Homo sapiens: one gene and its partner. The protein of the gene in region 1 purifies or fractionates together with the protein of each later gene. This does not show direct contact. Each region holds a gene or a part of one and is shown in the gene's direction. Other genes may lie near its edges.

Region 1 (2,166 bases):
TAAGCCTAATGTGTAATTTCAAGTGAAAATAGTATGGAAAATGAGGGCTGGGCAGGGGGTTCACGCCTGTAATCCTAGCACTTTGGGAGGCCAAGGCAGGTGTATCCATTGAGTCCAGGAGTTCAAGACCAGCCTAGGCAACACGGCAAAACCCCATCTCTGCAAAAAATACAAAATTAGCCAGGCATGGTGGTGCATGCCTGCAGTCCCACATACTTGGGAGGCTAAGGCAGGAGGATCATTTGAGCCAGGGATGGGGAGGTTGCAGTGAGTAAAGATTGTACCACTGCACTCCAGCCTGGGTGACAGAGCAAGACCCTGTCTCAAAAATAATAATAATGATAATTTTGGTATGGAAAATGAATCAGAATTTCATCATAACTAAATTCCAGAAGACAGAAGGCAAAAGCTGCGCCTGAAAGGGTAGTGGATGATGCTTTTGTTTCTTGGTTCCCTTAGGAACGGGTTAACTTGTTTGGTTTCTGGAGCCGATTCAACGGATCTAACAGTAATGGGGAAAGAAAAGGTAGGATAAATGGAGGTTGAGGACTGGAGAAGGATGGGAGGGATTCCTTCATGAGGGCAGCAACCCATGTTTTTCTTTATTTTATATTCTCTATCATCAGGCTAATTCTGGATTCTTTAATAGGAGGCTCTTGTGAATGTCATTGACCCAGTATCTAGGATGGATGGGCAGATGAGTGGAGAGAGGAATGGGAGAAACAGAATGGGGAGGGAGGGTGTATTGAATAGTGATGGACTTTGAAAAGGGTGGAAATCTGGGATCACATTTTATGGAGAAAATACCACTTGTACACAAAAGGCACAGTTAGAAGACAGATTCTTTGTGATCAGCTTCATTAACTCACTATTTTATGGTATGAATGATTTAGCCTTTCCTTCCTTTTCCTGTTCTAGACTTACAGCTCTCTGGTTTGAACAGCCCAGGATCCTGCTTAGAGAAAAAGGAGAAAGAGGAAGAGTTGGAAAAGGAGGAAGGAGAGAAAACAGTAAGATTAGCTTTAATTTCAGTTTTTATTTTTATAGAGATGGAGTTTCACCAGGTTGCCCAGGCTGGTCTCAAACTCCTGGACTTAGGCAATCCTCCCACCTCAGCCTTCCAAAGTGCTGGGATTACAGGCATGAGCCACCACACCTGGCCAACATTAGCTTTAAAAATTGTTTAGATGGCTGGGTGTGGTGGCTCACGCCTGTAATCCCAGCACTTTGGGAGGCCGAGGGAAGCGGATCACGAGGTCAGGAGATCGAGACCATCCTGGCTAACACAGTGAAACCCCATCTCTACTAAAAATACAAAAAATTATCCGGGCATGGTGGTGGGCACCTATAGTCCCAGCTACTCGGGAGGCTGAGGCAGGAGAATCGCTTGAACCTGGGAGGCAGAACTTGCAGTGAGGCAAGATCGCGCCACTGCACTCCAGCCTGGGCAACAGAGCGAAACTCCCTCTCAAAAAAAAAAAAAAAAATTGTTTAGACAAGGATCTTGGGGTTTCCTTTCAGGAGCTTTCTGTAAGGATCTCGTTAGAATGGACTTAGATTTACTAAGGAGCTATCCTGACCCTGCCTTGAGGGAGCCCCAGTTGTCAGATATTTGGGGGTTTCTAAGTCTCTTCTTTCCTCTTTATTCTCTAATTTCCCACATCTCTAGGAACTTCTTTCTTGAGTATAATCTCAGTTCCTACTGTATGTATTTGACTCCTCAGGGAGCAATTCAGAGAATACCAGTTGTTTCTTTCCACTCCTTTCTCCCCTACATGGACATGGAGGATTTTCATTCACTTGTTTTCTTAGCATCTCTTTTCCAGGTATAGGAAATATATATTTTCACTTTTTCTTCTAATTTTTAATTTAGCAATTTTTATCATACTTGTGGCCTAGCTTTATTTCCTTCTTTTATGCCTAAAGCCTTGCATTGATGAATACCAACAGACTGGGAAAGTGACCATACATTTTTCTCTGTGTTGCCAGAAATTTAAACAATATCAGGCTCACAGAAGCTACTTTGATTCCCCAAAGCCCACCTGTCATTCTGTAGCATCCTTCTCTATTAAAAACAGTTAGGGGCCTTGATTTATCATTTTTTTAAACTTTCTCTCCCATCCTCAGGACCCAATTTTGCCCATTCGTAAGCGAGTCAAAATACAG
Region 2 (3,500 bases), on another chromosome or scaffold:
CTGGTCAATAGATGACTTTTTGGGCCTGAAATCCAAAAGAGGAATGTGGACTGGAAATATAGATTTATGAATAATCAACATAAAGATGTTCATTGCAGTCATGGGTGTAGAAGAGATTGCAAAAGATAATGCATAGAATGAAGTGACAGAGCAAGAATGATCCATAAGAACCACCCCAACACTTAAGGAATTGACATAAATAAAAGGAAATTGAGATGGAGTTGTGAGGGAGGTGTCAGAACATTGAGGAGAGGGTGTGTCACAGAAACCAAGACAGGGGAGTGGACATCTGCACCATAGGCTGATGAGGTGTCAGTAGGACACCATGGAAGATGTTGGATATTTAGCTAAGGAGATATTTAGAAACATTGGTACGAGAAATTTCAACTCAGTTGGATTAGGTAAGAGCAAGATTGTCATAAAAGGGAAAGCTGGGAGTCTGAGAAGACCAAGGCAGACTGATCTCTCTGGAAATATGACTGCGTATGAATGGAGGGAAAGCAGTATAATGTCAGGATGCATTGGGGAGAAGAGGGAGGCAGTCCCTCTTCTGGGACTGCCTCCCTTTGCAAACTGGAATTTGGGTTTGCAAAATAAGATTAGGCATGCTTGTGTACCTTTAAGTGTTGTTGATAAGAAGCCAGCAGAGAATTAGGGGTGGCAAATATTGTAGAGAAAGGACTATGATCACCTAAGCAAATTCACAATACCTGTGAAGGTGGGCTGAGTTGAGCTAGGACATAGGTAGAAATAGGTTGAAAGGATGGCTATAAGGAAAGGTCCCCATCCATTATCACAGAAGGAAAGAATAGGTCAGCCCAGAGTCAAGTAAGTATGCTGATTCACTAAGAAATTTAAAGAAATCTTGCTGATCATGCCTATTTATCAAGGAAATGGAAGGTGAACCCAAGGAGTAAAACCGGGAGAATCATGATGGGATTGCAGTTTTAGGTAAAGTGGAGAGAGCTTGAAATTCATACTGAGCATAATGGGAGAGGTGATTAGCAAGACACAGCAATGCTGCCAAGTGGTATGCACGGCCCTGCTAAGGATGCAGGAGATGTTTGTGGAGCCCCCATGGCGGGTCTGTGTGATTATTCTCCAGCTGTGCCTGGCTTTGGAGCAGGCAGGGAAAAGGCAGATCTTTTCTTTAAAGGTGTTGTAGAAAAAAAAACTAAAAAAAAAAAAAAATAAAAAAATAGAGCAAGATGCTTGAAGCTACTGAAATGAGTGGTTGAAGTAATGGGGGAAAAAGAAACTTAAAAACAAAATCATTTTCTTAGGCTTTCTAAGTAGTCAAAGAATAAGAAGAATTGGAGTTCGCAGGTACAGGGATAGATGGAAAAAGGATAACTGAGCTTATGATTTCAGATCTAAAACATTTTCCACTACAGATATAGTCCAGGGTGTGGGGATGACAACTAAAGTGGTATCTGAAAGGAAATAATTAGATTAATGGGGCTCAGAGGTGCAGGAACTGGAATTTGGGGAATTAAATGAGACCCTAGTATGTTTAGACTTGAAGTGGAGAATAAACCTGTTTCATATCCTATTAATGAAAAGGAGGCTGTCTCAGGAAGTCTGCATTAACAAGGGGAAAGGCACCTAGCGCTCCACTAATGATGAGAGAAGTTTAAGAATGATATTTATTTAACAATAATTTTAAAATGTGGGATGAGAACCACTCATGTCCAGAATAGTTATTTTCTACTCAAGGCCCACCTGAGAGAGGGAGTCCACTGCGGCACAAAAGGTGGATAGAAACACCAACTTCTAAGCTATAAAAGTTTGGATGTTGGAGGTTGTTACCAGTGAAGGTTGTAGGATTTGTTTTCACAAATTAAAAATAAAAAATTCACTATGTCTCATTTCCTGATGTTTTCAATATAGCTCTGCTAAGGAGGAAAATAGGCTGAGTGATTACAAGAGTTCTGTTCAATCCTTTGCTTATGTGGTTTTGAATATTTCATAAAGGAAAACAAAATTTTAGACATTCATTCAACTTGTGACAGATGATTTTTGAAACAATGAAGTAGTATGGGGAAGTTAGCAAATATTTCGGATTTAGCATTGTCAGTTTGATACGAAAGGAATGCACTTTTTCTCCACAAACCTGAGTATGTTTTAAACCTTATCTTTATGCACCTGTTTTTCTTCTAGTATAAATTTTCCCTTTTGACAGTGTGTCTTTTATAAATATACCAATGTAAAATTTAGGGCAAGGTAAACAGTAATATGAAAGCTTAACAGCAGTAAATGATGAAACCTAAATATCTAAAAAGGGAAATGCCTTGTTCCATCCATCTTTTTCTCTTTCCTATTTTATAAACTTCATAAATTAGCAAAATCATTAATATAGTCTTGTACAAAAGTAATTTATTCCTTGTCTTGATATGAGAGGCTTTTGTGCTTTACAGCCCAGCTTCTTTGATGTAAGTTCTAAAAATAGATTTGTGATCACTCCATTTGTTTTCCTTTTCTTTTCTCTTACTAGTCAAAAGAGAAGATGTGTGAGAATACAGAACCAGTGGAAACTTCTTCTCGAACCACCACAACCGTAGGAGCGACAACCACCCAGTTCAGGGTCCTAACTACCACCAGAAGAGCAGTGACTTCTCAGTTTCCCACCAGCCTCCCTACAGAAGGTACCCAAGAGATAGTTTGCTTTTTTTTTTTTTTTTTTTTTTTTTTTTCCCTGAAGGAAGGAAAAATCACTGTGTTGACATGTACTGGAATAGCTCCTACTCTCTAGGTCTCTCTAAAGTTATTCTTTGGCAAACTGGATTTCTAAGGGATTTCCAAAGGGGAAAAAGACAAAATTATTATGAACTAAAAGTAAATGCTGGGATTCTTTTAATGCACTGTGCCTTTTTTTAAGACATAGCTTTTACCATTGATTCTGGCTTCTTGTCCTCTCCTTCCTAGAAAAGAAATACAGATTTCTTCCTGTGTGGCTAAATTTTGTACTAAGCAAATCCAACTTCACAATCACAGGTTAGAAAGGCAAAATGCATATAAAATGTCCGTTGATTCTGGATTCTGAACAATAAATAATTCTATTAATATATAATTCTAATGTTTTCCAGAATGCAGTCAATAAAATATATTGGTCTATAACCTATACAGAAACACTGTATGTGTCATAGAAATTGTCCTTGAAAACAACTATTTCCTCTTCTAAGGTAGGCAGAAATACTAGAGAGTGTTAATGCTTGGGCACAGCTCAGGAGGAAGAAAGTGTATTACCCAACATACGATAATTTTCTATTCTGAATGATACCACCAGGAGGGAGAGGGCAGAAACATAAGACTGGCCACGAATCAGGTTTGAGGGGGATAAATGGGTCTTACTTGTTTATTGTTATAAGCCTCACTTTCTTTGGCTTGAATAAAAAATTAAATATGGAACTTTTAATTGGAATTTAATTTGATATTATAAGGTGAACTGGAATAAAGTGGGGTGGAAAGCAGCTGCTAAGTGCATTTTACTGCTTTTAAAA

What was found. The genes of interacting proteins can lie anywhere in the genome.
Region 2: the proteins of ZCWPW1 (region 1) and PLXDC2 purify together in Homo sapiens (affinity purification with mass spectrometry; one large-scale study listed by BioGRID and IntAct). This does not show direct contact.

Annotation. Positions count from the first base shown.
Region 1 is NC_000007.14:100,402,538-100,404,703, reverse strand, and holds part of ZCWPW1 (zinc finger CW-type PWWP domain protein 1), read left to right. Parts: intron 1-459; coding exon 460-526; intron 527-918; coding exon 919-1,010; intron 1,011-2,127; coding exon 2,128-2,166. UniProt on the Homo sapiens protein: Dual histone methylation reader specific for PRDM9-catalyzed histone marks (H3K4me3 and H3K36me3). Facilitates the repair of PRDM9-induced meiotic double-strand breaks (DSBs). Essential for male fertility and spermatogenesis.
Region 2 is NC_000010.11:20,214,932-20,218,431, forward strand, and holds part of PLXDC2 (plexin domain-containing protein 2 isoform 1 precursor), read left to right. Parts: intron 1-2,494; coding exon 2,495-2,645; intron 2,646-3,500. UniProt on the Homo sapiens protein: May play a role in tumor angiogenesis.